Linked DNA regions of Homo sapiens: region 2 is linked to region 1. A link means that fine-mapping ties the variant in region 1 to the expression of a gene that starts in the linked region. Tissue or cell type: visceral fat. Region 1 holds a variant in brackets; the other region holds the start of a gene. All regions are shown on one strand. Distances are between the middles of the regions. Region 1 overlaps LIPA (lipase A, lysosomal acid type). Region 2 holds the start of LIPA (lipase A, lysosomal acid type).

The links. PIP is the estimated chance that this variant, and not a neighbour inherited with it, causes the effect.
Region 2: LIPA starts here. The variant in region 1 is the best candidate, but not a certain one, in a credible set for the expression of LIPA in visceral fat (GTEx, PIP 0.55).

Annotation. Positions count from the first base shown.
Region 1 is chr10:89,218,383-89,229,722 of GRCh38, forward strand. LIPA (lipase A, lysosomal acid type) reads right to left here. Exons shown (of 10, transcript NM_000235.4): 4 at 9,818-10,016; 5 at 8,513-8,622; 6 at 6,710-6,846; 7 at 5,302-5,448; 8 at 4,129-4,200. Among named protein-coding and RNA genes, the nearest start is that of CH25H, 17 kb to the left of the region's middle. The variant G/A (reference allele first, on the strand shown) is at 5,893.
Region 2 is chr10:89,247,012-89,258,351 of GRCh38, forward strand. LIPA (lipase A, lysosomal acid type) reads right to left here and starts at 4,764. Exons shown (of 10, transcript NM_000235.4): 1 at 4,726-4,764; 2 at 527-638. The coding sequence starts at 637. RefSeq lists enhancers at 2,033-2,122, 4,791-4,850.

The DNA of each region.
Region 1 (11,340 bases):
TTTATGACAAATATTTTAAAACTTTAGTTACTGACCCGGAAAGGCATTTTTAATTATGGCAGAGACTGCCACCCATTCCCATTCTTGCCTTCTTCCTTTCAGTAACAGAATCCCTAAAGCTTTCCCTAAGTACATGGCTGCCAAGATAGAAACCACATCCTCATCCTCCTGCGAGCAGCCAGGCTATGGCCATACCGCTCACTTCTAAGCTATCTCCTTCGCACAAAGTCACTTGCCCTGAGCTCCCTCTCCCCTGCCTTCCTGTGAGTTGGAAGAGACATGGAGGTGACCGGGCTGCAACCAGGCAGAAGAGGACAACACCCCGAGGATGGCAGAGCTATAGTATGGAGGGAACTGGGTCCCTGCATGGCCTCATGGAACACAGCCAAAACCCCCTCTATCATCAGTCTGGGCCACCTCTCTCTGAACTTTATTATGAGAAAGAAATAAACTCTTTATTTAGCAGCTGTATTTTGGGGTCTCTAATACAACAGCTTAACTTGTATCTAACAAATATAATGGCATTTCTTTAAATGAAAATTTACATAAAAGCAGATGTAGTATGATCTGACTTTTGTAATGGAAATGATTATATTACAAAACTGTAAGATTATACCAAAATATTAATAGTGGCTATTGCTGGGTGCTAGACATACAAGTCATTTTTCTTTCACTCATGTATTTTCTAAAATTTCATAAAACATATTACATGTTTAACAAAAATTATACTGAATATCCTTTTTACAGTGTTCTTTAAAAGCCTACCAAAAGTATGTTTTTTCCTTTAAAGAAAAAAAAAAGAGCACATCGTAATCATCTAAGGCACTTAACTCAAACATAGATCCCAGGGTCACAGCCCTAGGAATTCAGAGTCTCCACAGGTCTCAGACAGGCCCAAGAACCAGTATTTTTAATAGCACCTTAGGTAGGTCAGAACAACACTGGAAAACTACACTGGGATGGCCTTCTTCAAACAGGTGAGAGTACCTGGGCTCTGGGCAGGGCCAGTGAGAAAGTGAGAAGTAATATCAAGTCTTGGCTCTGGGGAGCTCCGAAATTCATCAGGTTTATAAGGAGAATGGAAAGATGAGTATGCTATATTTAAAATCCCGCTAAAGAACAAGGTATGGAATTTATTAACAAGTTAATCCTAATTATTTAAACAAAAAGTAAACTTCTGAATGGACTGTAAACAAAATGGCCTTTAAGGTCAACCCCAAACTCATACCATAAGAGCCCTCTAATGCCACACCTGAATTCTAGCCCCAGCCTGCCCGGCATCCAGGCCTGCCCAGCTTCCACAGAAGCCTTTTCCTGCACTGCCTCTTGGAGCCTGCAGCCTGCACCAGTGGCAGCCCCTGGCCAACAGCCCAGAGGAGGGAAAGCCAAAGGGAAGATCCGATACAATGGCTGCACAAAGCAACCAACCATTTTACTGACAAAAGATGGTACAGCGGGTAGAAGAGCAAAGGCCCAGGCTGCCTTGTACAGCAAATCTGGGCTTTGCAAATATTCTGGAGGTATATTCCAGGGTAGTTAGAATCTAAAGTCACCAGGTCACAAATGGGGCACAGAGCAGTGCTCTGGCCCTCACCCTGCAGCCTTTGACCCTGGCAAGCTGCTGGATAAGAGGGCTGGAACAAGACCAGTAGCCTAGATGATAGCCGATCCAATGTCTCTACTGCAAACCCCATGCCCAGTGGAGGCCCAAGACACAGAAGGGTGAAGCAACACAGGTCTGTAATATAAAATAGAGTTGGCCTAGGACAGCCTTGGTTTCAACATTCCCAAGGGCCTCTGACATCCCAGGTCTGGTGGCCATTTGTACTTTGCTGAGGCCTGGCGTGTACTGTGTGTGGGCTGCTGGCAGTCACTAAGCTGGTGGGAAAGCTCAGGATCTGCCTCCAGCCAGCTCAGTCACCCTCCATCATCTCTGGGGGTGCAATAACTGATGAGGTGACAGACATTGGGCCTTTTAGGAAAATGTCCATTAGGTAAGAGGTCCTAGGCATCCTCAAAAATGTAGGGGAATTCTAGTGACAGGGTATATGAAGAAAACAAGTGACTATAAGCATAAATGTGACCAAGGAGAAAAGCAGAGACCTGAACCAAGAACGAAAATCCTCAATCTTTGTGAATTTGAGGATTTTTGAAGGTTTGGGGGCATTCCTTAAGTGGTAAGCATGTGCTGTTCAGCACGTCATGAACTATTTGCATTCCAGATGCCCCTCTTTTAGGCCACAACAAACTCTGCCCCTGAGGAACTGACATTTAACTCTCAGCCTTCTAGTTACTATAAAGGACCAGGAGCCTCAGGCCAGGCTCTTCCTAGTTCCTTAGAGACGAGCCCCAGGGAAAGGAGAACTATAGCACTGTTAGAGTTCCTGGGGCAACTGAAGAAGGAGATGAAAGTATCAGGATGTCCCGAACAGGTCTGCTCCCAAACCTGGTGGAGCAAAAGAATCTACCAGGCAGATTTTTTAAAAATGCAGATCCTCAGAAATAAAAAGGAATGAACTACTGACATACACAACATAGGAAAATTTCAAAACAAGTATTCTGAGTGGAAGAAGCCAGACAAAAACAAGTATAAACTGCATGACTGTTCTCATGCAAGCTCTAGAAAATGCAAACTAAGCTACAATGACAGGAAGCAGATCAGTGGGATTGAGGGGAGGGATGGGGGGAGGTATCACAAAGGGGCAGCAGGGACCTTTTAGGATGATGATATATTTGCTGTGTCGATTATGGTGATGGTTTCACAGGTGTATACAAACACTGAAATATATCAAATTGTATACTTTAAATATTCTATGTCACTTATACCTCAATAAAAAATTTTTTTTTAAAATAATAAAACGACTCGGGAGGCTGAGGCAGGAGAATCACATGAAGCTGGGAGGCGGAGGTTGCAGTGAGCCAAGATCGCACCACTACACTCCAGCCTGGCAACAGAGTGAGAGTCCATCTCAAAAAAATAAAATAAAACGAAAAAATAAAAGTACAGATTCTCTAGTCCAAATGATTGGGACACAGGAGTATTTGTTTTATAAGCCTGGATGGTAGCCAATCCAAGAATTCCACTATAATTCCAACTCTCATTACTTTTTTAATGCAATGATTTATTAAATAGTGTACTTTTTAAAGCAATTTGGTGATTCTGATGCAAGCAGTGACTGCCAGGTGTTTGGAAATTACTATTCAAGACACCTACAGTGTCTTGGTTTAGGGCTTAAATGGTGAGTTGTTTCATATTAAAAATGAAGTTAGCTGAAAAATAAATGGCACAAAATTATGTCCTGAGGTAGAAAGAAGTCCCTGACATATTGTCAGGTGAAAAAAGAAAAGCAAGCTGTAAAACAGTAAGCAGGAGAAAAATCAATCTATTTCTACATCTACTATTTCTATCCATGTCTTTAACAGCATCTTTTTGAAAAGAGGTATAGAATAGAATGCAGAGACATTCAATATCTATGGATATGCATTTCCTCTCTGTCTAGGGTTATAGAATGATTTTATTTTCATTTTAAGATAATTTTTTTCTAGATGTAGTTTCTAAATTTTCTAGAATGAACATGACTTATTTACATGATAAAATAATCAAAACTGTATTTCAAAAGTCAGGGGCCCCCATTCACATCTATCATTGGTTTAGCTCCAGTTTATTCACTGCTATTCCAAGCATATTGTGATCAGGGGTTAGTGTTGAAACAGCGGTTTCTATCTCCAAAACGGACTTAAAATCACTCTTTATGAAGCAACACAGAAATAAAAAAAATCTAGGACTCAATGAGAAGCAGATGGAGGGGAGGAAACAGGAGGAGGAAAAGAAAGCTGGGGGAGAAGGAAAGGGAGAGAATATATTAACCTGAGACTTGAGGAAGGGAGAGGAGGGAAAAGAAAAATGTCAACCCCAGTAGCTGTTTGTGAACCCACGTATAACACAGTGTGCCCCACCACAGGTATCAAAAGCAACACAAGCACGATGACAAAAACCCAGGACTCTGGGGAAGAAAACCAGATCAGATTTGTAAGCAGGTTGTCTTTCTATTTGGAAAGGGTTTGCATGCCCAGACCTTTCTGATGTTGATTTTACATGAACCCCAAATGCACTCCTGGAATGCCTACCTGGCTCCAGTGTAACATGTTTTGCACAGAAGTTCCAGCAGGAGAATGTGTTGTATATACATCCACTCTAGACTGCAAAATAAATACATTGAAATGAAGAATGAAAACAGCATTAAGGTGGCATTGATAATAAACATTGTATTTTGCCCTTCAAAGCACTAAAAACTAGAGCCATAATCTCAAGTATGTGAGATGAGAGGTAGAAAAAAATTATTTGACTAAAAATCTGCCCTATAAAAATACATACAACCACATACAAAGTCCATATGAAGGAGGTGCAACAACATGGTAAGCACGGGACTGTGTGGGTTTCGTTTACAGGGCATTTTCATTTTGTTCTTCATGCTTTCCTGAATTTCCCAAATTTCATATAACAATCACACCTTGCTTTAATTATCAGACAAAAGAAAAATGGCACTGAAATTCCTTAGGGCCTTTATTCCAGGATTTTAACCCTTTTTTTCAAAATGCCACATGACAAACTAACAAACATATTTAGAAACACGGGCATAGTATTGGCCAAGGGTTTATATTTTATAAAATAAAATGGGTTTACATTTTATAAAATGTACTTTTATAAATACACACACACTGCAAGCATACACTTATGTGTATGTAAATGGCCGTTCCAAATTTAAATACTTATAGTAATTTTTGAAAATTTGTGTATTTTAGATTCGGGGGGTCCATGTGCAGGTTTGTTACAAGGGTGGATTGCATGATGCTGAGATGCGGGCTTCTATTGATCCCATAACCACAGTACTCAATATTGGCTATAGTACTCAACAGGCTTCAGCCCTTGTCCCTCTCCCTCCTTCCTTTTGGAGTCCCCACTGTCTATTGTTCCCATCTTTATGTTTATACTTATAATGATTTCTAAAAGAAACAAATCACTAGAGTAATTATAAATATTACAGCTTAATTTGTGACAGATCTCCTCATTCAATAATCTCCATCTAGGTACAACATAAGAAGGTGACCACAGTCAGCCTGAGGATGGCAGCAGGTGGTACCGTATTCTAGGCATTGGCCAAAGTTCATGCTTGTGCCTCTCAAATGAAAGACTCTTTAGAGTTCTGATGAGGTCATTCCCACCTCTCCCATATCATTCAACACAAATAAGCACATTCACAGATAAAAAAAAAAATCAAATCTTACTATAAACATGCATACCATATTTAAATTTCTCTCATTAAATCCACACAGAAGAAAACAGAGATTTCCACAGAGCTCCTTCAGTATGACATGAGTGCAAACGTGGGTACCCAGCCACTTCAAAAACGCACTCTGGGGAAGAAATTCTTTGTCTCCAAATAAGTCCTACAAAATAAAAAGAAACCCAAGAACATCTCAGCATTTCACTCTGGTGCATAAGTCTCCGTGACTCACCTCAGAAGCAGAGACAAGTACCCAATGTCTCCACGAATGGCCTCAGGAGAGAATGGCAACCAGTGGACATCAAATCAGGATGCTTTTGCACAAGTTTACCAAAGCAAAAATCACACACTACAGAGGTGTATTTAAATTCTCCAAATGAAGAGAAGGAGGCAGAAAATCAAATAAGTTTTCAGCGGACTTCTACAGTGGGAAAGGGCCTTAATGATCACCCCTCCCAGGGCCATCCCCAAGTAATTTTCATCTGACTCTGATGGATCGGTGGTTACTTCTAAGAAACAGTCAAGGCTGTGATTGATCAGTAATGTCTGCCAGAGGTGTGCCCATCTAATTCAATGCTACTGGCCAGCAGGCCAAATCCAGCCCATC[G/A]CTTGCTTTTTTATTTTGTTTTTTAAAATTTTTTTTATTGGCCAGGCATGGTAGCTCATGCCTGTAATCCCAGCACTTTGAGAGGCCAAGGCAGAAGGACTGCCTAAGCCTAGGAGATTCCATCTTTCCTATTTAAGTCTTCTAAATGGCCCATGAGAGACGTTATACCTCATTTCATGTATATATTTCTATACAGGATTTCATATGTGTGTGTGTGAACATATATTTCATAAAAGACATATAATGCATGCATAATAGAACATCTGGTCTTACCTAGCTTAAAACTCTTTTTCATGAAATCTATTTCCTCCCTGAACAGAGGTTCGGGTGCCACAGCTTTAGGGCAGAGCCCTGATGAAGCTACTGGCTGTGTTTAGGAGCCATATTATAAAATACAATAATGATAGCGTTGTTAGGTCACCCTCAGTGTAGCTAGGGATGGGCTTTTGGGAACATTTCCTATCTCCCATCTCCTACATCCTCTGTGCACAGGCTCACCTCATGGGATAAAGGGCAACTCCACAAATGCTTAAATTATTTTCTCCCAGACTCTCCTTGCTCTCCCTGTGAGGTGGGCAGAGCTGTACTGACACATGCTAACCATGAGTACACGTGGCACCAGTGTGCAGGAAACGACAGGCGTCCCCGGCCACCCCTGGGTCTGGAAGGAGGGGTAAACGGAAAAAGAAAAGCCCACTGCTCCACTGATATCAAAACGCAGGGGAGGAAGGCACAGATTATCCCTCCCCTTGCCATTTCTTCAGATCTCAGGAGGAAATCTGCGGGGAGAGGAGAGGGATGGGAGGGGTCCAAGTACCTTAATGAGATGATCTGGTAATCGTCCTAATTTGGCCATAGGGCTAGTACAGAAGGCGACGGAAGCCACAGGACCCAGGGCAAAAAACATTTTAATCCTTTTAGCCAGCTCAGGGATCTGTGAAAATGCTATAAAACCTGTGAGAACAAAGGACAGAAAACAGGAATTCCATCATCTGGGATTTCCTTCTCAGAAAACACAAAGGCCGTCACTCGCGACGCCCTCTCGCGGAGGCCTGAGACCCACGCAAACAATACCACCAGCAGGAGCCAAAACACTTGACATGGGGCACTCTGAACTTCCGTGTGCCCTAACACTGAATTTGGTTAAACTAGTAAATCAAGCATTTGTTAATGCTTGCTCCAAATCTCAACCTAGATAAGCACTGGAAGAAATCCAGTCTGGGAGAATCAGAAAATCTTCCCAGTTCCTTTTACAATGTAAATAACAGACTATTTCCAAGAGCCTCACCCCATCACCTTTATCTCCCCCATGCCCCTCCCCCAAAGAACAATTTACAGACACCACGTTGAAATAAACCACCAATGATTTCAAAGGAACTCACACATTTAGAATCCCCTAGCTTTAAAATATATTTTAACCCTTGATATGGTTTGGGTGTGTTCCCACCCAAATCTCATCTTTAATTGTAGTTCCCATAATTCCCATGTGTTGTGGGAGGGACCTGGTGGGAGATAATTGAATCACGGAGGCGGTTCCCCCCATACTGTTCTTGTGGTAGTGAGTAAGTCTCTTGAGATTTGATGGTTTTATAAGGGGAAACTCCCTCACTTGGCTCTCACTCTCTCTTGTCTGCCACCATGTAAGATGTTCCTTGCTCTTCCGTCATTATTGTAAGGCCTCCCTAGCTCACAATCCATTAAACTGTGAGTCCATTAAACCTCTTTTTCTTTATAAATTGCCCAGTCTCGGGTATGTCTTTAGTAGTGGCATGAAAACGAATTAATACAACCCTCTCTGACGTCTTGCCACCTGGCCCCAGAATGTCACTTTAGGAAGCAGTGGGGCAAAGGTCCCAAGCAGGCAAGTCATGAAAGAAGAAATATAAATAAAGAAAAATGCCTAACTCCATTTTTTTCCTGGCAATATAACCACATGTTTTGAGACCCTTCAAAACATTCATACCTTTCATATAGTAAGGCTCCTTCTAGGAATATATTGTAAGGAAAGCATGTGATGGGAACACTAAGGTGTTAGTCATAGTAAACATTAAAAGGGAGAATTAAATAAATTATAGGACAGGTTCCTAGTCCCTAATTACAAAAACTCTTGCTGACTAGAATTATGGGCAATTTTTATTTTCTTTAATTTTGCTAAATCTTCTGTTCTTCTGTTTTTCTACAGTGAACATGCATTACTTATATAATCAGCATAAATTAAAATGCATATAACTTTTCAAAATTTTTTGTAAACCAAATGTACCTGTAGTTAGTTATATTCCACTTAACTTCAGAAGGCAGTATATTTTCTTGTTTTCTTTATGTAAGTCTCTGAACTTAGAAACTACTTGTTTTCTACTCTCTCACATCCCTATCTTGCTTCATCTAGGAAAACATGTAATATATTGTGGCTTACATTAATTTCTTCAATTTCAACCATATACATGAATTTTCATAGAAGACTAAATGTTACCAACATTCCTTATCTTATTCATTATTTCTGTTTGGCATTTAAAAATAAATGGAATTTGAACTAACATCTTTTTATATTTCACTTTTAAGAAAAGTACAAACTCTGTAATGAAGAATTTATATCAACTTCTGATCTTATTTACATACATACCTATAGTGGTGCCTTGAGAATGACCCACATAATACACTTGTTCTTGGCCAGTTTTATTCAGAATGAAGTTAATGGAAGCTGGTAGGTCATATTTTGCCATCTCATCATAACTGTAATCCAAGAAAGGAACTCTTTCATTGAAATAGTACATAAAATAGAGCACACACATACTGAGTATGCAGTTTGATGAGTTATCACAAACTAAACACAGCTGGGAAAACCAGCAGTGAGTCCAGGAAACAACACCAGCAGGACTGCAGAAGCCCCCTTGGGCTCTCTTCCAGTTGTGTCTCCCAAAAGTAACTATTGTCCTCATTTTTCACACCAGAAATTAGTTTCGCCTGTTTTTAAATATTTCTGTAAGTAGAATTATACAATGTGTATTCTCCTGTATCTGGCTTAATCCATTTTTTGCTGCATATAATTGTAAGTTGTTCATTCTTATTCTACTATATAAATATACAACACTTTATCCATTCACTGCTGACATGCATTTGGGTAGTTTCCTGTTTTCCGTTGTTACAAATAGCGTGACAATAAACCAATTCTTGTATATGCCTTTTGTTAAAAGCTCTCATTCTTGTGTTTCATGTCCTTAGAGGTGCCTCTGGTTTTAAAAATGGGAAGCAAGCCCGGAGGCTGCTATAGTGCTGCTGACTTTCTCTAATACCTGGTACCAAAACATAGACCAAAACCCAAGTGTGCGTATGGGTATATGCATGCGCATGTTGCCACTGGCAGGAGAAGAGCCAACCCCTAGCCAGTTCATACAAGGTGCCAGGTTCTGTGGAGGTTCCTTCTCTGCACCCTCTCCTTTAAGCCCCCAGTGACCTTATGAGGTAGGTGTTTATTACGCTCCATTTTACAAATAAGGAAACCGAGACACAGGAGGCTTATGTAAGATGTCCAATGTCATACAGCAATTAACTGGTGGAGCCAGAAGGAAGAGGGAGGAAAGGATAATTTCTGGAAAGAAGAAAAGTGAACATCTGGATTACATATTTATGGAGAAAGGAGGAAAGTTATGGAATAACGTTTACCCAGCAGCACCCACACCACCAGAAATGCCGAAGTAACTTAAGAATTCCTAACTAAATGTAAATCTTAATGTAATCATTTACTTATAATTTACCTTACTGCTAGTCATTAAATTCCTAGCAACATTTAAAACCTTTCAAAAGACACTAACTTCCCCTCTCATACAACTTCAGAGTTACCACCTATCTACCTCTTCTGCTGGAAGCCTGTTGTCTGCTTTAAGAGTACTAAGGAAATACATCCATGCCATTATCAATTCATATATACCTGAAAGCCCAGAATTCATCCTGAGAAACTGAGAGTGTCTTATGTTTCCGAGACCAGGTATTTCCTCTGCTGTTGCCCATCCACACGTCAAAACCAGCATCAGCAAGAATGAAGCCCAGGCTGCTGTTGGCAAGGTTTGTGACCCAGTTACTAGAATCTGCCAGCAAGCCATGTTGCAGGAAGACAACTGGTTTGGGACCTGAAAAACATTCATTGTTTAGGAGGCAGTAGCACCAAGCTTCAAAACAAATATGATATCTTGCTAAATAGAACATTCGTAAAAGATCCATAAGCAAATAATGAACTAGAAATAAATTGAAAGATTGACATAGTGATGTACTCACATATAATGTTAGTAAAGAATTTTTTTAAAACAGCACTGGCAAGGTAGCAGTGAAACTGGACCATTTTTTGCATGTCCACTAACAAGACACACTTATGTAAGCAGCAAAAACAAAAATCAATATATTTTTAAGAAATTATAAAATGTTTTTACAATTTTTTTCTTATAAAATGTTTTTACAATTTGCTTTCGTAATTGCATTTCTCACAATAATTCCTAACAAAATAAACAAAAGGAAAGAAAAAGATCACACATAATGAGACATCACTATACACGTATCAGAATGAGCAACATCCAAAAACGCTGAAAACACCAACTGCTGAAGAGGATGTGGAGGAACAGGAACTCTCATTCATTGCTGGTGGAAATGCAAACTGGTAGCACCACACTGGAAAAGTTTGGCAGTTTCTTACAAAACTAAACATACTCTTACCATATAATCCAGCAATCACATTCCTTGGTATTTTACCCAAAGGAGTTGAAAACTTACATCTACACAAAAACCTGCATACAGATGTCTATAGTAGTTTTACTCATAATTGCCAAAATTTAGAAGCAACCAAGATGTGCTCCAGTAAATGAATGCATAACTAAACTGTGCTACATCCAGACAATGGAGTATTACTCAGCCCTAAAAGGAAATGAGCTATCAAGCCACAAAAAGATGTAGAGGAACCTTAAATACATATTACCAAGATCTGTAAAGGCTGCATTCTATATGACATGCTGGAAAAGACAAAACTATAGAGAGAGTAAAAAAGATCCTGGTTGCCAGGGGTTAGGAGGGAGGAAGGAATTCATAGACAGAGTAAAGAGGATTTTTCAGGGCAGTAAGACTACTCTGCATGATACTATAGAGGTAGACACATGCCATCATACATTTGTCCAAAACTATAGAATATACAACATCAAGAGTGAACTGTAGTGGCCGGGTGTGGTGGTTCATGCCTGCAATCCCAGCACTTTGGGAGGCTGAGGCGAGTGGATCACTTGAGGTCAGTAGTTCGAGACTAGCCTGGCCAACATGGCGAAACCCTGTCTCTACTAAAAATACAAAAAAGGTAGCTGGGTGTGGTGCCCCACACCTGTAATCCCAGCTATTCAGGAAGCTGAGGCAGGAGAATTGCTTGAACCCGGGAGGCAGAGGTTGCAGTGAGCCAAGATTGCACTGCTGCACTCC
Region 2 (11,340 bases), 29 kb after region 1:
TTAAACTGAGGTTTGTTGGCTACATATTACCTGGTGAGAAAAGCCTAGCAAATTGAATCTAAGATTCAGAGAAATTGGGCTGGGCACGGTGGCTCACGCCTGTAATCCCAGGACTTTGGGAGGCTGAGGTGGACAGATCACCTGAGCTCAGGAGTTCAAGACCACCCTGGGCAACATGGTGAAACCCTGTATCTACTAAATACAAAAAAAATTAGCCAGGCATGGTGGTGCATGCCTGTAGTCCCAGCTACTTGGGAGGCTGAGGCTCGAGAATCACTTGAGCCCCTGAGGCGGAGGTCGCAATGAGCCGAGATCACACCACTGCACTCCAGCCTGGGCGGGCAGGTGACAGAGTAAGACTCTGCCTCAAAAAAAAAAAAAAAAAAAAAAAAAAAAAAAATTCAGAGAAATTGAAAAGCAAAGGAGTTATAAAGAGATGAATGTATGGGTATGGCTTCATGTAGCTCACATAACTGGATCGGGGAAATAGATGCATTTTAAAAGTACATAACTTTGAGAAACTTACCACATTCATGTTTGTTTCAGGATCCACAGCTGTCAGTTTCCCTCCAGACCCCTCAGAATGCAGGGTCCAGAGAACCAAACAGACCACCAACCCCAAGAACCGCATTTTCATTCTGTATAATAAAACAGTCTATTATTATTTGCTTGAATTTTACTACACAAAAATATTCTGGTAACTTAATGCTCCCACAAAAAGTTCTGAACCAGATTTAGGGCAAGTAAAAGGTGAAAGGAAAATATGAAACAAATGACTCCAGCCATATCTGAAAGGAGAATAAGGAATTTTTAAATTTTATTTATTTATTTTTATTTTATTTATTTATTTATTTATTTATTTATTTATTTATGTTGAGATGGAGTCTTGCTCTGTCACCCAGGCTGGAGTGCAGTGGTGCAATCTCAGCTCACTGCAACCTCTGCCTCCTGGTTCAAGCAATTCTTCTGCCTCAGCCTCCCAAGTAGCTGGGACAACAGGCACGCACCACCACGCCTGGCTAATTTTTGTATTTTTGTAGCGATGGGCTTTCACCATATTGGCTAGGCTGGTCTCGAACTCCTGGCTTCGTGATTCGCCCACCTCGGCCTCTCAAAGTGCTGGGATTACAGGCGTGAGCCACCGCGCCTGCCCAGGAATTTTTTTTTTTTTTCGGAGTCTCGCTCTGTTGCCCAGGCTGGAGTGCAGTGGCACAATCTCGGCTCACCACAACCTCCGCCTCCCAGGTTCAAGCGGTTCTCCTGCCTCAGCCTCCAGAGTAGCTGGGACTACAGGTGCAGGCCACCATGCCCGGCTAATTTTTGTATTTTTAGTAGAGACAGGGTTTCACTATATTGGCAAGGCTGGTCTCAGATGACTTCGTGACCTGCCCGCCTCCGCCTCCCAAAGGAATTATTATTATTATTATTTTATATTTATTTATTTATTTATTTATTTATTTATTTATTTATTTATTTATTTTGAGGCTGAGTCTCGCTCTGTCGCCCAGGCTGGAGTGCAGTGGCGCAATCTTGGCTCACTGCAAGCTCCGCCTCCCAGGTTCAGGCCATTCTCCTGCCTCAGACTCCCAGGTAGCTGGGACTACAGGCGCCCGCCACCACGCCCGGCAAATTTTTTTGTATTTTTTTTTTTTTAGTAGAGACGGGGTTTCACTGTGTTAGCCAGGATGGTCTCGATCTCCTAACCTCGTGATCACGCCTCGGCCTCCCAAAGTGCTGGGATGACAGGCGTGAGCCACCGCGCCCGGCCCAAAGGAATTACTTTTAACTAAGAAACCTCCCACCCACCACCTCCAGTTGATATATGACCTTTGGAGTCCAGCATACCCATTCACCTCCTAACCCCAAAGTTAAAAACAAATTGGTCATGGAGAAATAACAAAAGGCAAGACTTAGAAGAGGATAGTTTGAGAAAAAGAAAGAGACACAAAATTTCTGAGCTTGCTTATTTCCCACCTCTTGCCTTCCACCTATGATTTAGACATGTTTAAGTTCAGCCACTATTAGCTCTTCCTCCTACTTATCTAACCACTATTAGCTCTTCCTCCTACTTATCTAACCACTTCTGTTCTTGCCCCAAATTATACGTCAGCATTTAAATTTGTCATTCATGGGAAAAAAGTGAAATGAAAGAAAATAGAGCTTTCAAAAGAAACAGAAAGGAAAAATTTGACCCGTCTCTCTCCTTCTGAAATTCTCTAACCATCAAATCAACAAAGACCATCTTGGTTTCTGGCAGTGATGACTCAAAATCACAGCAAAGACCTTGAGGATGCTGAAGGCAAAGTTAAATGCCTCTCCTAAGATCACGCAAGTGGTCAGAGAAAAACCTAGGACTAGATCCCAGAACTTCTACATTTTTAAAAAATAAATAGAATCACTTAAAAAGATGCAGGCATGTATGCCCATACAAAGACTTGTACATAAATGTTTATAACAGCTTTGGGTGTAATAGACAAAAACTGGAAAAACCCAAATGCTTTAAATGGATGATTGGATAAATTATGGTATATACCTACTACTCAGCTATAAAAGGGAAGGAACACAAAAAAATATAGATTAATCTCAAAATAATTATGCCAAAAGAAGCCAGATCAAAATAAGGAAAAAAAAAAGTACTGTCTGATCCCATTCATATAAAACTCCACAAAATGCAGTCTAATCTATATTCACAGAAAGCAGATCAGTGGTTTCCTGGAGAGAAGGGGCAGTAAGAAAGGATCACAAAGGGGTATGCACAAATAATATTTTGGAGGTGATGTACAGGTTCATAATATTGAATGTACTGATGGTTTCACAGGTGTGTACACATGCAAAAACTTATACAATTGTACAATTGAAATATGCCATGCTATTGTATGTCAATAATACTCCAATACAGCTGTTTGTTTTTAGTTTTGTGTTTAAACTGAATATTCCACAAGTCTTAAGAAATTGATTCTCAGGAGATTGCAAAAGTGAACTGACTCCCTTCTGTTGATGGAATTCCTCCTGGGATTATTTTTTTCCAAGAAGTAGTGAACTCTGAAATTCTTTTCTTTTTTCTTTTTTCTTTTTCTTTTTCTTTTCTTTTCTTTCTTTTTTTTTTTTGAGACAGTCTTGCTCTGTCCCCCAGGCTGGAGTACAGTGGCGAGATCTTGGCTCACTGCAAGCTCCACCTCCTGGGTTCAGGCCATTCTCCCGCCTCAGCCTCCCAAGTAGCTGGGACTACAGGCGCCCACCACCACGCCTGGCTAATTTTGTTTTTGTATTTTTAGTAGAAACAGGGTTTCACCGTGTTAGCCAGGATGGTCTCGATCTCCTGACCTCGTGATCCGCCGGCCTCGGCCTCCAAAAGTGCTAGGATTACAGGCGTGAGCCACCGCGCCCGACCGTGAACTCTGAACAGGAGCAAACGTTATCCCCTTCAGTGTGCATTGGCAAAGCAAGGCCACTGCTTCTACTTACAACTTTGTACTTCTTCATGATAGGAAGGATTGTACAGCCCCAGGCTATTTTTTATCATAAATGCAACCTCCCAAAAGTCCATTATTACTAGAGAATAAGGAGTAAATTGAAAGGGAAAAAATTAAAGGAATTACCACAATTGAAAACAGAATAGCATCTGCAGGAGCTGCTTTCATTCAGCGGTTTTCCTACAGAACCTGTATCAACCGCCCAGAGGAAGGTCCATGAGAGTAACAGCTAAAGCTACTCAGCTGAAAATCTCACCCAGTTAAGTTTTCCTTCCAACACAACACTACATACTTAGTATGTTTTTCTCAACATACTAAGCCAAGCAATTCTTACTAAGAAGGAGATACTCTGAAAATCTCGAAGGAGGGGGGAAAAAAAACCTTCCAGGCTGAATTAAGTGTGCTTTTCTGGGCTGTATTAACACCTTTATCTCAGTTATTTAGACTTTGTAACAATCTGACTCAGCTTTGTACCCCCAGGACCAAGCAAAGTGCCACGTATATATTAGATGCATAGTACAGATTCTGAAAAAAGATAAGAGCAGTCCAACAGTTCAGTGGCAGAAGAAAAGGCCCCAACGCAGCATGCTATTTAACTTTCTAATAACAACAATTATTACGACTCCCATTTAAGCTCTTGCGAGGCGCCAGCCACCGCAGGCAGCGCTTCTGATCTACTGTCAATTACTCCTCCACCGACCCTATGGCAGTACCATTAATTCCATTTTTCAGGAATCTGAGGTTCACCCAGCTGAAGTACTGGAAGCAAAGTGTCAGCTGTTTAAAAAGCAGTATCGCTGGGACTTTAACCAGGATTGATGCCCAAGTCTGCTTTCGACCACGCCGTTGGCTAACAAGAGAGGTAGGATGGGATGCCTGGAGGAGCTAAGGGGAGAGCACGAGGATGCAGAGAGAGGAATCAGACATCCCTGCTGTCCTCGCGGTCCAGGAGCACTGGGCAGCTTCACTGACCGGAGACCGCGCCTGTCCAGGAAAGTGGACAGCGCCCAGGGAAGAGAGTGGGCTTCTCTCTGAAGTTGCTCTCTGAAGTTGCCCTGGTTGATTGGCAGATGCCTTGAGCCAACGCCCGCAGAAAAAGCACCCGCAGGCACCCCAGGCAAGACTCGCTGGGTCCAAACGCAGAGGGTCTTGCCGGCCGGCAGAGCCTCGGGGCGCGACCCTCCCCTTGCTGAAGGCACCAGCTTCCACGCCGCACCCGCACCTGGCAGCGCCGCGGCGCCGGCACTCTCACCTGGAGCTGTCCTGCCGGGCCGCTGTCTCGAGTCGCAGTGCCAGCTCTCAGGGGCCGGGGTGCGGATAGGGGACCTGCAGGGGGCCTGGTCTGCCTTGTCGGGAGGGCGGATGCCCACCACCCTCGGACTATTTGTTCAGCCAATCAGAGCAGCCAGCCACCGGGAAGTGCCTCGGAGACTCCGCCCCAGACCAGCGCTGCCGCTTGCCAGCCCCCCAGTTGACCCCATAGAGCATGCGCCGTAGGCGTTTCTAAGAGATGGAGCCCGTCCTCCGCCTCGCAGGCTGGCAGGTCCACAGCTCTACCAGCGCGTCGCCTACGCATGCTCTCTTAGCAAAGGCTGTTTTAGGCGGCCTTCTGCTCCGCCCCCGAAGCTCCTGCAGGGCTGGCACCTTCTGCGCCTGACAGAGAGCATGTGGGCTCTATAAATGAAAGTGAATCATGGGCTCCATTTAAAGCGCTTATCATTGTGCCTGATGCAAAGCAATCTTGCTGCTTTAAATTTTTTATTATTATTAAAGATTTGTTAAAAGAGGAAACAATATTCAATATGTACATATTATTTATTAATCATTTTCTAAAACAAAGATTTTATTGAGCACCTACTAAATGCCAGGCATTAGTAAGACAGTGGAGGTATAGAAACCAACCAAACAAGGTTCCTGTTCTCTTGTATATATTCTGATGGGAAGAGACACATCATGAATAACTATATAATACATGAGGTGGTGATAAGTGCTATAAATAACAACAAAAACAAACAAACAACAACAACAACAAACAACAAGGGGCTGGGCACAGTGGCTCACGCCTGTAATCCCAGCAGTTTGGGAAGCTGAGGAGGGCGGATCACCTGAGGACAGGAGTTCAGGACCAGCCTGGCCAACTTGGTGAAACCCCATCTCTACTAAAAATACAAAATTAGCGGGTGTGGTGGTGTGTGCCTCTAATCCCAGCTCCTTGGGAGGCTGAGGCAGGAAAATGGCTTGAACCAGGTAGGTGGAGGTTGCAGTGAGCGGAGATCATGCCACTGCACTCCAGCATGGACAACAGAGTGAGACTCCATCCCCCAAAAAAAAAAAAAAACAGGGATAAGGAGGATGATATGTATATGGTAATCAGGAAAGGACTCTTATGAAGTGACACCTGAGCACAGGCAAGGAGGTAGTTAACAGCCTTAGATACTGGAGAAAGCACATTCTGGGTGAAAATAGCAGGTACAAAGGCCCTGTGGTAGGAATATTCCTGGTGGGTCCTAGCCAGAGTGGTGAGGTCTTTGAGGCTAAAACAGAATGTACATAGTAGAAAGTAATAGAACATGAAGTCCTAGAAGTCTGGTGCCTTGGGAGCCACTTGTCAAGATCTTACCGTGTCTTCTGAGTAAGATGAGAAGCCAGTGTAATATTTTCAATAGAAGGGCAGCATAATCTAGTTTAGAAAGATCATTCTGAACTACAGAAGCAGGGAGACTAATTAGAAGGTGTATTAGTCTGTTCTCATGCTGCTAATAAAGACATACCCAAGACTGGGTAATTTATGAAGGAAAAAGGTTTAACTGACTCACAGTTTCACAGGACTGGGGAGGCCTCACAATCATGGCAGAAGGCAAAAGGCTTGTCTTACATGGCGGCACATGTGAGAGAAAGAACCAAGTAAAAGGATTTTCCTCTTATAAAACCATCAGACCTTGTGAGACTTATTTACCACCACAAGAACAGTATGGGCTAGACTGCCCCCATGATTCAGTTATCTCCCACCGGGTCCCTCCCACAACATGTGGGAATTACAGGAGCTATAATTCAAGATGAGATTTGGGTGGGGACACAGCCAAACCATATCATTCTGCCCTTGGCCACTCCCAAATCTCATGTCCTCACATTTCAAAACCAATCATGCCTTCCCAGTAGTCCCCCAAAGTCTTAACTCATTTCAGCATTAACTCAAAAGTCCATAGTCCAAAGTCTCACCTGAGACAAGGCAAGTCCCTTCCACCTATTAGCTGGTAAAATCAAAAGCAAGTTAGTTGCTTCTTAGATACAATGGGGGTACAGGCATTGGATAAATACACCTGTTTCAAATGGGAGAAACTGGCCAAAATGAAGGAGCTAAAAGCCGCATGCAAGTCCAGATCCATCAAGGCAGTCATTTCTTAAAGCTCCAAAATGATCTCCTTTGACTCCATGTCTCACATCCAGGTCACACTGATGCAGGAGGTGGGTTCCCATGGTCTTGGGCAGCTCTGCCCCTGTGGCTTTGCAGGGGGACCCTTCCTCCTGGCTCCTTTCACAGGCTGGTGTTGAGTGTCTGTAGCTTTCCCAGGTGCACAGTGCAAGCTATCGGTGGATCTACCATTCTGGGGTCTGGAGGACAGTGGCTCTCTTCTCACAGCTGCACTAGGCAGTGCCCCATTGGGGACTCTGTGTGAGGCCTCCAATCCCACATTTCCCTTCTGCACTGACCTAGCCCAGGCTCTCCTTGAGGGCCCCACCCCTGCAGCAAACTTCTGCCTGGACATTCAGGCTTTTCCACACATCCTCTGAAATACAGGTGGAGGTTCCCAAACCTCAATTCTTGACTTCTGTGCACCCACAGGCTCAACACCACATGGAAACTGCCAAGGCTTAGGGACTGTACCCTGTGAAGCCATGGCCTGAGCTGTACTTTAACCCCTTTTTGCCATGGCTAGAGTGACTGGGACACAGGCTGGGACACAAGTCCCTAGGCTGCACACAGCAGGGAGGACCTGAGCCAGCCCACAAAAGTATTTTTTCCTCCTAGGCCTCTGGGCCTGTGATGGGAGGGGCTGCCTCAAAGGTCTCTGACATGCCCTGTCAGACATTTTCCCCATTGTCTTGGTAATTAACATTTGGCTCCTCATTACTTATGCAAATTTCTGCAGCCAGCTTGAATTTCTGCTCAGAAAATGGGTTTTTCTTTTCTATCGTATTGTCAGACTGCAAATTTTCTGAACTTTTATGTTTTGTTTCCCTTTTAAAACTGAATTCTTTTAACAGCACCCAAGTCACCATTTCAATGTTTTACTGCTTAGAAATTTCTTCCCCCAGATACCCTAAAGCATCTCCCTCAAGTTCAAAGTTTCACAAATCTCTAGGGCAGGGACAAAATGCCCCCAGTATCTTTGCTAAAACATAGCAAGAGTCACCTTTACTACAGTTCACAACAAGTTTCTCATCTCCATCTGAGACCACCTCAGCCTGGATTTCATTGTCCATATCATTATCAGCATTTTGGTCAAAGCCATTCAACAGTTCTCTAAGAAGTTCCAAACTTTCCCACGTCTTCCTGACTTCTTCTGAGCCCTCCAAACTGTTCCAACCTCTGCCTGTTACCCAGTTCCAAAGCCACTTCCACATTTTTGGGTATCTTTACAATAGCACCCCATTCTACTGGTACCAATTTACTGTGTCAGTTCTTATGCTGCTAATAAAGACATACCCAAAACTAGGTAATTTGTAAAGGAAAGAGGTTTAATTGACTCACAGTTCCACGTGGCTAGGGAGGCCTCACAATCATGGCAGAAGGCAAAAGGCACGTCTTACATGGCAGCAGACATGAGAGGATATGAGAACCAAGTGAAAGGGGTTTCCCCTTATAAACCCATCAGATCTCATGAGACCTAGTCACTACCACAAGAAAGGTATGGGGAAAACTGCCCCCCATGATTTAATTATCTCCCACTGGGTCCCTCCCACAACATGTGGGCATTATGGGAACTACAATTCAAGATAATGATTTGGGTGGGGACACAGCCAAACCATATCAGAAGGCTACCACAATAGTCCAAGTGAGAGTTAATAATGACTTGGACCAGGATGGTGATAGCAGTGAAAGTGGAGAAAAATAGGCAGCTCTAGGTATGTTTATAAAGTTGAACCAATAGGACTTGCTGGTGGATTGAATACAGGTATGAGAGGGACAGTAGCATCAAGGATGGCACTAATGGAGTTGCCATGAATTTGAATGGACAAACTACCAGGAAGAACAACTTGAGAGGGAAATTAGGAGTTTGTTCTAGATGTGTTGGTTTTGAGATGCCTTTTAGAGACCTGTGTCAACTCAGGCCATGTCAGGAAATAGAAGCCACTCTAGGCATTGCAAACAGAGGACATGGTTACACAGGTAATGACATTGCTGAGAAGACAAACAGGGTTTGGGTGGCACCACAGAAATTATTAGCAACAGTGGAAAGAGCTGGGGCATTATTGGATGAAGGAAGTGTCATACCATAGACCAGAAGTTGAGCAACAGTCTCTGTCAGAGACACTACTCATGGCCAAGAAAGAGAGGAGCTAGAAATAGCTGGACCTCCCCTTCTTTCTTCCTTCTTCCTTCAGTCTTCCACAAGTCCCTTCTGAGGATCCTAGGCAGGCTAAAGGTGGCTGACACAAGAGCCTGCAGAGGTCAGACCACTCCACCCTCCACAAGACAGAGCAGAGCAGAGGTAGGACAGGGAAAGGATTTGGAACAAAAAGGAGAAGATTGGAAAAACATCCACATGGAGATGTTGAGTAGGGACTAGGATATATAGATGTATTCAAGCTCCAGGCTAGAGATATGATTTGTGACTAATCAGATTAGAAACAGTATTTAAAGACATGAGGCTGGAGGAGATCCCCTATAAAGTAAGCATAAGTAGCAAAGAACACACGTAGAGATTCAGAAGATATAAAAGCTGAGAAGACAATGAGGTTGGAGGAGAAATGAGTGTGTTGTACTTGACATGAACTGAAGAAAGAAATTTCATGAAAGAGGAAATGATCAGCCCAGGCAAGTGCCAATGACAGCTTAAGTGAAGTGAGTACTGAGAAACGAGCAACAGATTGAGCAGCATTTCTGTGTGTCAGACATTGGGCAATATAGTTACCCTTTCTAAGCCTCAGCGTCTTCACTTGTAAAATGGGTGTATGAAGGTAGTCTTGAGGATTAAGTGAGACACTGTATGTAGAGGGCTTAGCACAATTTCACAAAAGTAAAAAGTGATGTAGCCCAAAATGCAACCCAGGCAAACTAAATCCAGGTTGTCATCCGTGAGTGAATGAATGAAAATATAACCACGAGGTTCCTTCACTCAGGTAGGGGAAGATTTCTCCTACTTCCTGCTTTGGGCCATTGTGAGCCACAGTGACTGGTGGATGACCTATACCTTTTCCAAGTTAAACTTAATAAAGAGAGAAAAGGAGACTCTACATAAGAAAATGATATTTATTCAGGTTTGCAATGTGAATAAGTGTGCCATATTATACTATGTGCATATTTAAAGAAGTTAAGACAAGGGGAAGTTTTTAAAGGCAAAATGAGAAAGAATAAATAAGTTGTTTTGAATCAATTGTCCTTGGCTACGAGGATCAATAACAAGGGTGGCATTGGTCCAAGGACTGACAGTTGCTGAATAGACATCCTTGCAGAAGTATTTTCTGTGCAAGACTGCATTTTTGGCAGTCTTTTGTGATAGTTCTGAATTTCAGGCATATGTGTGAGAATACTCCCTTTATGGCCTTCCATGGGTCCATTTGCCAGGACTTTAATATAAAGGACTTCATTTTGATTTTGACAACTTTCACAACTATAAAAAGAAAGTTTTATAGAAAACAGGAGGTAGTAGTGGTGTGTGTGTGTGTGTGCATATATGAACATGTGTGTTTGGGATGGTCACTTTATATCATAAGCCAGACTGGTGAAATAAAGACAGAAACAATACTAATAGCAGTTCTGCTTCCAGCAAAGATAGAGTAACAATGACCTGGTTTACTCTCCTACTTTAAACAGCTAAGTTGGAAAAAGTATGAAACGATAATTTCAGACATTGGACAACAAATAGTGCAAAAGAAAGAGCAATCCTTGAGAAAAGAAAAACAAATGAAATGATCCCTGCAATGCCTCAGATAATTGCCTGGACAGATTTTCCAGGCTGTAGTTTAGGGAGGCCAAATCCAAGCAAAATCCAGCAGTTTATCTAAATAGAGGAGAAAAATGAGAATTAAAAAAGCATTCTCATCTGGCAGTAGGAATTCTCTTAAGGCAGCAGAGTTGCAGGGCAGAATGCTGGAGCAGAGAGAGCTGAAGAGAGAGAGAGGCTGTGGCGAGCTGCAGATGGGTTCCTTCAAGTCTTTAACTAACAGTTTGCATGTGAAGAAACTATGCTAGACCATAGTTTAGTGGAAAGAACCACCTGCAAACGGTAAGATCCCCAAGGCTCACACAAAACTTGGAATGGTTTAAGTTACAACCAGCCAGAGTGGGAAAACATTGTAACACAGAAGGCACTCAATAAAAGATTCATAAGACTATTGTCTCAGTATTGGAGCAAGATCAGCCCTAAGTTAAGGCTGCCTTTTAAAAATAAGAATACTGAATAAGAATAAGAATACTGAATACTGGGAAGTAGACCCCCAATTGATTTTTACCAAGGTTCCATGACAATTCAATGGGGAAAGAATAATCTTTTTAACAATGGTGCTAGAACACTTGAATAGCTATATGCAAAACAATGAACCTAGACCCTTAAGTCATAGAAAAATTAACTCAAAATGGACCATACACATACATTTGAAAGTTAAAAATATAGGAGTTCCTGGAAAAAAATTGGAGAAAATC